Linked DNA regions of Homo sapiens. The protein of the gene in region 1 interacts with the protein of each later gene in a biochemical or structural test. Each region holds a gene or a part of one and is shown on either strand. Other genes may lie near its edges.

Region 1 (5,205 bases):
GCGCGGTGGCTCACGCCTGTAATCCCAGCACTTTGGGAGGCCGAGGCGGGCGGATCACAAGGTCAGGAGATTGAGACCATCCTGGCTAGCACGGTGAAACCCCGTCTCTACTAAAAATACAAAAAATTAGTCAGGCGTGGTGGCGGGCGCCTGTAGTCCCAGCTACTCGGGAGGCTGAGGCAGGAGAATGGCGTGAACCCAGGAGGCGGAGCTTGCAGTGAGCTGAGATCGTGCCACTGAACTCCAGCCTGGAAGACAGAGTGAGACTACGTCTCAAAAAATAAAAAGAAGGGGTGCCATTTTCCTTTTTTCCCCTTCTTGTGGTTGGAATGTAGACATAAAACCTGGAGCCTGGGGGGTGGGGGACAAGGGGAGGGAGAGCATTAGGCAAATACCTGACACACGCGGGGCTTCAAACCTAGATGATGGGTTGATGGGTGCAGCAAACTACCATGGCACATGTATACCTATGTAACAAACCCTGCACGTTCTGCACATGTATCCCAGAACTTAAAATTAAAAAAAAAAAAAAAAAAAAAGCTGGCGTGTGGAGCTAGGCACAGTGGCTCACGCCTGTAATGTCAGCACTTTGGGAGGCCAAGACAAGAGGACCTCTTGAGCCCAAGAGATCGAGACCAGCGTAGGAAACAAAGTGAGACCTCGTCTCTACAAAAAATTAGCCTGGTGTGGTGGCATGCCTGTAGTCCCAGCTACTAGAGAGGCTGAGGTGGGAGGATCACTTGAGCCCAGGAGGTTGAGGCTGCAATGATTTGTGACGGCATCACTGCACTCCAGCCTGGGTGACAGAGCAAGACCCTGTTAAAAAAAAAAAAAAAAAAAAGGCTGGGTGCGGTGGCTGACGCCTGTAATCCCAGCACTTTAGGAGGCCCAGGTGGGCAGATCATGAGGTCAAGAGATCAAGGCTGTCCTGGCCAATATGGTGAAACCCCGTCTCTACTGAAAAATTAAAAAAAATAAATAAATAATACAAAAATTAGCTGGGCCTGGTGGCATGTGCCTGTAGTCCCAGCTACTTGGGAGGCTGAGGCAGGATAATTGCTTGAACCCAGGAGGCAGAGGTTTCAGTGAGCCAAGATCGCGCCGCTGTACTCCGGCCTGGGCGACAGAGCAAGACTCCAGCTCAAAAAAAAAAAAAAAACAAAAAACGCTGGAGCTCAAGCAGTCATTTTGGATCATGAAGTAAACTTCAGAATGGAGACCATACAAGGTGGGGGAGAAACAGTGGTTTATAACTGGAGGGTAGCATGATCCACCCCTCTCTCCCATGTCCTTGGAAACCTATGGGGTTACTGTGATTGTAATAATGACTGAGAATGTTACTGAAGTTTATGGCGGGGAGGTGTGGATATCCTGCATCCTGCTAAGTACAGGACAGGACCACATCAGAAAGAATTAGCCTGCCCGGCCGGGTGCAGTGACTCATGCCTGTAATCCCAGCACTCTAGGAGGCTGAGGCGGGCGGATCACCTGAGGTCAGGACTTCAAGACCAGCCTAGCCAACATGGTGAAACCCTGTCTCCACTAAAAATATAAAAATTAGCCAGTGCATGCCTATAATCTCAGCTACTCGGGAGGCTGAGGCACAAGAATCACTTGAATCTGGGAGGAGGAGGGTGCAGTGAGCTGAGATTGTGCCATTGCACTCCAGCCTGGGCGGCAGAGTGAGACTCTGTCCCAAAAAAAAAAAAAAAAAAAAAAAAGGTAGCACAAATGAACGCCTGATGTACAGCCAGTTGGAAATTCTCCCAAAGGGCTGCTCTGCTCTAGGCTGAGCTGGAGACTTCCTGTCTGATCTGTCTCAGTCCCATACCCATTAATTTGCTGCTTGGACAATCTGGAGCCTCAGCTGGGAATTGACGGGAACAGTAAATGGGGAGACCCAGGTTTGGCTCCAACCAAGCAGAAGGTCCTGGGTTGAAAGTCTCCATGGCCACCATCAACTCTCACTGGTGACAGCAACAGACCCATCATTGGCTGTCTCTACCTAACAGTCAAAGGAGCTTTTATTTTTAAGTATTTTTTTTCAGATGGAGTCTTGCTCTGTCACCCAGGCTGGAGTGCAACGGCGCCATCTCAACCTCTGCCTCCTGCAGTCAAGCAATTCCCCTGCCTCAGCCTCCTGAGTAGCTAGGACTACAGGCACCCACCACCATGCCTGGCTAATTTTTGTATTTTTAGTAGAGATGGGGTTTCACCATGTTGGCCAGGCTAGTCCTGAATGAACTCCTGGCCTCAAGTGAACCACCCACCTCGGCCTCCCAAAGTGCCAGGATTACAGGCGTGAGCCACCGCGCCTGGCCGAATTTTTGTATTTTTAGTAGAGGTGGGATTTCACCATGTTGGCCAGGCTGGTCTCAAACTCCTGGTGTCAAGGGATTCACCCACCTGGGCCTCCCAAAGTGCTGGGATTACAGGCGTGAGCCACCGCACCCGGCCTCCAAAGGAGTTTTTATTTACTTCCTTTTATAAAAATTAATTTAAAAATTTCTTTTTCATATACATGGGGTCTCACTACATTGACCAGGCTGGTCTCAAATTCCTGGCCTCAAGTGATCCTCCCACCTTGGCCTCCCAAAGTACTGGGATTATAGGTGTGAGCTACCACTCTATTCAGACATGGCTCCTCATGGCTTCCTACTTCATTAGAATAAAACCTGAAGGCCACTCCCTCACCCACAGGGCCTTCCAGCTCCCTCTCCTACATAATTTCCTACCTCTCTCTTCCTTGCCTGCACAGTGGCAGCCACATGGGCCTCTTTGCTGTTTCTGGGACACACCATGCTCACCTCAGCACCTCCTTCTTCCTCCAAACTTTTCGTGACTGGTTCCTTTTTGCCACTTGGAACTCAGATGAAGTATCATTTCTCAGATTGCTCAGAGAAGCGTTCCCAAAAGTAGTCTTCCAGCCCTTAAAGTGCCTTCCTCTCAGCCTCCTCGCACTTTGTACTAACACTTTTTTCTGGTGTACTTGTCTTTAAAAATTATAATTTTCTTAAAAAACAGCTTTATAAAAAAGAGCTTCTTGTATGTTGACTGACTTACTATTCCTGAGGGCAGGGATTGCATGTATTTTTCTTCTCTGCTATATCCCTAGAACCCGGTGCAGTTAGATGAAGGAATGAATGAGTGAATTAATCATTTTCCTGTCTGACAGATGGGACAGTGCATGGGCTAGTGTCTGAGGGGGCTTTCAGTGCTAGCATCCATGTGCTGTCTCTATGCTTTTTTAAATTTTTTCTTTTTTTGGAGACAGAGTCTCGCTCTGTCACCCAGGCTGGAGTGCAGTGGCCAATCCCAGCCCACTGCAATCTCTGCCTCCCGGCCTCAAGTGATTCTCCTGCCTCAGTCTCCCGAGTAGCTGGGACAACAGGCATCTGCCACCACGCCCAGGTAATTTTAGTATTTTTAGTAGAGATGGGGTTTCACCATGTTGGTCAGGCTGGTCTCAAACTCCTGACCTCAAGTGATCCGCCCACCTCGGCCTCCCAAAGTGCTGGGATTACAGGTGTGCGCCCCCGCGCCCGGCCTTGTCTCTAGATCCTATGAGCTTTTTATTCTAATCCAGTGTGCCCCCTAGTTGCCATTTGTGCTAGCTGAACAGGTAACTGGCACTTGTCTGGTGGCCTGACCTTGCCAGCAGGTCCCTTTGTCAGACTGAGATCCTGGCTTCAGCAGGAGACCCTCCCTCCCACTCTGCCCTCACCCCTTCCTCCCTCCCTTACTCCCCAGAGGCCATCCCGGCCGCGCCTTTCAGCACCTCCAGACATCACTGCTTTTGGAGAAGAGGGAGAGACGGATAACCTCCGGCGCCATCCAGGCGTAGGTCCCCGCAGCGCTCATCTTGGTGGTCTTGTGCCACTCGCGGGCGAGGCCGAAGTCCGTGATCTTGAGCACCGTGTCTGCGAGGTTGTGGTTCTCGATGGCCTCCAGGATCAGGACTGTGGGGTGGGAAGAAAGGTGGGTCACCCCAGACCTGCCACGCCGCAGACCCAAGTGTTCTGGCCCGCTGCCTCAGCTAGAAACACGTCTTTCCTCTCACTGCCTCAGGCTGCCCCGCTCTGTGGCAGGTCCTTTCCTGGCCTGGAACATCCATGAGCCCCTCCGCCCAGGTCTAATCCCTGTCCCAGGCTCCCATGAGGGAGTAGGGAGCTCCTCCTGTGTCCTCTGCCCTCCTGATTCTGTCCTGGGCTTTGGGGAGCTCCATGAATGGTCAAGAACCAACAGCCAAGGCTGAAGCGGGTCACTTGAGCCCAGGAGTTCGAGACCAGCCTGTGCAACATGGCAAGACCTCATCTCTACAAAAACTTTTTAAAAATACCTGGGTGTGGTGGTGCATGCCTACAGTCCCAGCCACTTGGGAGGCTAAGTTGGGAGGATCACTTGAGGCTGGGAGGTTGAGGCTGCAGTGAGCCATGGTCTTGCCATTGCACTCCAGCCTGGGCAATAGAGTGAGACCTCGTCTCAAAAAAAAGAAACAACAGCCAAGGCCTTAGTCCTCCAGGCCTTGAGTTCCCAGCTACCCTGGAAGCAGGAAGTGCAAACCTGGGGCAGAAGGGAGGAACGTGGCTTCCCCCTCGTGTCTATCACCCCCGTGGCACACTGCAGTCAGGGTCCCAATTCTACCCCTTCCTGTGTCCACACTCTGCCATGAGACTTTGCCATTCTTTCTGCTAAAGAGGCAGAGTATGGCCAGGCACGGTGGCTCACACCTGTAATCCCAGCACTTTGGGAGGCTAAGGCAGGCGGATCACTTGAGGTCAGGAGTTCGAGACCAGCCTGGCCAACATGGTGAAACCTCATCTCTACTAAAAATACAAAAATTAGCCGAGCATCATGGTGCTCACCTGTAATCCCAGCTACTTGGAAGGCTGAGGCATGAGAATCACTTGAACCTGGGAGGTGGAGGTGGCAGTGAGCTGAGATTGCGCCATTGAACTCCAGCCTGGGTGACAGAGCGAGACTCTGTCTCCGAGAAAACAAAAACAAAAACAAAAACAAAGGCAGAGTGCACCCTGACTCTGGCTCAGCCGTATGACTTGCTTTGGCTAAGAATGACAGGGTGCCAATTCCAAGCCCAGGCCTTGCATGTCTGCTGGCCCTCTTGCACTTGTGTCATCACCATGACAACATGCCTCAGCTAGCCTGCTTGTCCAAGAAGATGAGAGCTACTTGGAGCAAAGCCTC
Region 2 (4,352 bases), on another chromosome or scaffold:
ACAGCTCAAATAAATCACACAAAGCCAATGAGAGCATGCCAGGGCAGATGCAAACCTAAGCCAGTCTCAGTAGAATCGTACCCACCCCTGATGAGACTGTGGATTCATCCTAGGGCAGGAGAGCGACCCAGCTGAGATATGACATACTCTCTGTCTCCAAGGCTGACACGAACTCATCCACAACTGCCCAAAACTTCAAAGAGCGTGAGTATCTCTGCTATTATAAGAATTATCACAGCGACACTAAAATTCCTCTCCATAATCACTATGGATGAAGTACTTAAAAAGGTAAAATCACCTAGCCTTCACCCCAGCTTCTAAAGAGGTCAGCATGGCTGTCAGCCCTCAAAAAGATAAAACTAAACCTGAAGCATAGCTGCCAAGACCCTTAAGAAGACAGATGACCCAAACAGATGCAAAGAAATGCAGTGAGATTTTAAAACACACCACACAATACAATCTTAAGAAAAGTGAGAAGGCAGATTATACTCGTTACCATAGCATAGCTCCCTTCCCTATTGTAGGGAGGTCCTGGTCTGATCCTTCTGTGTCCACCATTAAACAGCACTGTCCACTGTCCTCTTCAAGAGTCAGGGAATGAGCCTCAGGCAAAGCAGCTTTCAGGGGCCATCTGAAGCACACATCACTCCTCCCCTTCAAAGAATATAGTCCGCCAGGCACAGTGTCTCACGTCTGAATCCCAGCACTTTTGGAAGTTGAAGTGGGCAGACTGCATGAGTCCAGGAGTCCACGATTAGTAAGATGGTGAGACCCTGTCTCTACAAAGAATTCTTTAAAAAATTAGCCAGGCTTGGGGATGCATGCCTGTAGTCCTAGCTATTTGGAAGGCTGAGGCAGGAGGATCACTGGAGCCCAGGAGTTCAAGCTTGCAGTGAGCTATGATTGTGCCACTGTACTCTAGCCTGGGTAAAAGAGCGAGACCCTGACACTACCAAAATAAATAAATAAATAAATAAATAAATAATAATAATAAAGCAACTCCTTTTTTAGCCAAGGCAACACATATCTTCAGCTGCCACCATCACTTCCCTCTGCCAAGGATCTTGAAGGCATAGGAAGCCATTCCTTTAAGTTTAGGTAGCAAATAAGCTCCACAAACAGGAGAGGACGGTTATGCCTCTGAGGGCAGAGAAAGAAGAGGAGAGGGGAAAAGTTCATGAGTGTGGAAGACGACAGGATCTGTAGCAACGGCAGCTACCGTTAGAGCAGAGCACCCTGCAGGGAGCTCCTGGGTGGCTCCTCTAAACACCCACCTGCACTTCAGTGGTTTCTGTCCTCCACTCAGAGACACCATAAATCCACAGCAGTTGTGAGCAAGTTACAGCTTTCTTCTGTATCTGCTTCTTCCTGCCTCACCAATCTTTTCTCTCAACATTCCCATTACTTTCTCTCCTTTCTCCACTGTACCTGCCCATTCCCCCAATCCCAAGTTCTGTGATCATTTAAACATACAATCATCTCATGTGATTAAAAAAAAATCTGACAACACAAATAGATAATAAAAGCCGTATTTATCACCTTCCAAGATTCAACTAATGGTACTTTATTTGGTCAAAAGGAGAAACTCTTCTTCAAATCCCCAATTTATATCATAACCAATTCAATATCCATGAGGTGAGGATATATGGTCAACTTACCCAGGGGATTGGCACCAATAAATACATTCGCAAAGTTCATCTTCGGCATCTGAGTCAAAGACTGAATATAGTTTCTTGCCTGAAAAAACAAGGGTTTTCAGAATGACTTTGTTCAATAATGTTACTGCTCTCAAAGAAAGAATCTTGGTCCTGCTAAGGAACGAGTGTTAACTGACAAAGTCCACTAACTTCAGTGTTTCTAACTGTCTTTGATAGAACTTCTCCCTTACTGCCATCCTAACTTCCCTAGTTATGATCATCACCTTCTTTATTCCTGCTATCTCTCACAGTTGCATTTCAAGTGAACGAGAATGCTCATCAATCAAATTCTCTTTCATTAGCTTTCTGATCACAGGATGAGAAGTTTAAAAACTGAGGCCAAGATATGTAAGAAGTAGCCCTGAGACAGCCTTCTCAAACAGCTAAATTGGTAGAGGGGTTGGTATTCCCAAAGCAAGTCTTGGACCAGCAGTCTTTTGACAGTGCTGACTTCAGTAGGTGCTCTTAGTACATCAAAGGATATCAATATTAAACCTTGCTAACAAAGTAACGGTGGTAACAAAAAAGTTAATATAAACTTAATATAACAGTCCTACCTCACAGGGTTGGAGTGAAGATTAGAGATAACAAACCTAGTACTTTCTTAACACAGTACTTGGTTCCAAGTGACAGTTCAAGAAACATTATCTGCTATCCCACTATCACCTTCAGAAGCAAAGTCTGCTGTCTATCTTAACCACCTCTTTAAAACTCCTGTTTTAATACAGTCCAACAGTAAAAGTATGTATGTATATTTATGTTTACACATACACACACAAGTTTATAAAAAGTTCTGGTTGCCCAGGCACGGTGACTCACGCCTGTAATCCCAGCACTTTGGGAGGCCAAGGTGGGCAGATCGCTTGAGCCCAGGACTTTGAGACCAGCCTGGGTAACATGGTGAAAACTTGTCTCCAAAAATACAAAAAATTAGCCAGGTGTGGTGACGCATGCCTGTGGTCCCAGCTACTTGGGAGACTGAGGTAACAGGATCGCTTGAGCAGGGAGATGGAGCCCAGGAAGCTTGAGCCCAGGAGGTGGAGGTTCCAGTGAGCTAAGATCGTGCCACTGCACTCCAGCTGGGGTGACAGAGTTAAGATCCTGTCTTAAAAAAAAAAAAATCTGGTTGCTTGGGCAAGTTCACCTTCTTTATTTATTAAAAAAATTTTTTTAGAGACACAGTCTCTGCTCTGTTGCCTAGGCTGGAGGTCACTGGCACAATCACAGCTCACTATGGCCTCTAACTCCTGACTCAAGCAACCCTCCTGCCTCAGCTTCCCAAGTAGCTGGGACTACAGGCATGTGCTATCATGCCCTAATTTTTAAATTTTTTTGTAGAGCTGCAGTATTGCTGTGTTGCCCAGGATGGTCTCAAACTCCTGGGCTCAACTGATCCTCCCATCTCAGCCTTCCAAAGTGCTGAGGTTGCAGGTGCACGCCACCACACCCAGCCTTCCGCTTCTTAATTATTGCATGTGGAGTCAGGAGGAAAGGTCTGCTTTGAAAAGCAATTGAGAATCTTTCTGATTTGAAAAGAAAGTTTTAGGAATTGAATACATAAATGGCTGTAATCCCTTTCTACTTGAACATGTAAATAAAAAGAGGAAGGGAAAACAGGTAAGAGAGAACTATCTCATTCAGAGAACAGTCATCCCTTTAATAAAGATAAATCAAAAGACGACCTGAATATAGCTGAAGTAGAAACAAAGCTGCTGGGAAGGGCCCTCTGTGATGCCAACCTGGTTCCCCAAAATATTAAGGGTATCTTACAAAGAAAGAAGTGCCCCAATCATCTCTGATAATAAAACAAGAGTTAGACTAAGTAGTTAATAATTAATAAAGAAGGTACCTAACTGTACCAAAGTGTTTGTATTTATTCTATATTATTTGTGTATTTTCTTTTAAATATAGTACATATTAGTATTGGATATTTCAGTTTTGTTTTTAAATAAAGAATCCTCTTTTGGTCATTAAAAAAATGGATGAATTGGAAAGCATGCTAATGGACTTCAGTTAACTACCCTTCTGATAAAGGTCACGATAGTAGCACACCCTAGCTACAGGCAGAGCACCTAGAAAGAAACCGCCTCACAAGCACTAAATTCACACAACCAAATATAAAAATAACAATTTTCCATTTACAAGCTTACTAATTATATTCCCAATCTCACAGGACTGGATGACATTTTATCCCAAAAGTCAACATCTTGCAATAGCACATAGGCAGGCCTCAAGGCACATGCAAGCATCCAGTGATGTTAAGAACTGTTGGTTATACGGTGGCAATAAAATGAGAATGTGGCTTCTCAGTGCGACATCCCTGTACAGTCTCTTTGTTCTCACCTCATGGCTTGGCATCCTGTTAATGAGATAAGCGGGGGGTGTTCCTGTCAGACGCATAATCTGCTGAAGCTGGTTAATATCTTAGATGCCTAGTCAAGGGCATTGTTAAACATACAGTGCAAAAAATAATTTTCAACTCAAGTTTTTAAAAAGGTCAAAAAGCCACCCCCAAACAGACAAAAAAACCTACCCTCCATTCCCCCTACCCGAGAGCCCACAGCTGCATGCTACAGTACACTTCTGTGAATGACATGAGTAACTAGGCACGTAGCCAGTGACTGGCCATGCAGATAAGAAAAATTACTTTTCTTT

Evidence for each region. Proteins that work in one complex are often made in the same cells at the same time.
Region 2: of the proteins of MAP3K10 (region 1) and MAPK14, one has a biochemical effect on the other in vitro, tested with the Homo sapiens proteins (one study listed by BioGRID).

What each region holds. Positions count from the first base shown.
Region 1 is NC_000019.10:40,197,129-40,202,333, reverse strand, and holds part of MAP3K10 (mitogen-activated protein kinase kinase kinase 10), read right to left. Parts: intron 3,960-5,205; coding exon 3,779-3,959; intron 1-3,778. UniProt on the Homo sapiens protein: Activates the JUN N-terminal pathway.
Region 2 is NC_000006.12:36,099,956-36,104,307, reverse strand, and holds part of MAPK14 (mitogen-activated protein kinase 14), read right to left. Parts: intron 4,121-4,352; coding exon of another isoform or gene 4,041-4,120; exon of another isoform or gene 4,035-4,040; intron 1,738-4,034; coding exon 1,659-1,737; coding exon of another isoform or gene 1,606-1,658; exon of another isoform or gene 1,544-1,605; intron 1-1,543. UniProt on the Homo sapiens protein: Serine/threonine kinase which acts as an essential component of the MAP kinase signal transduction pathway.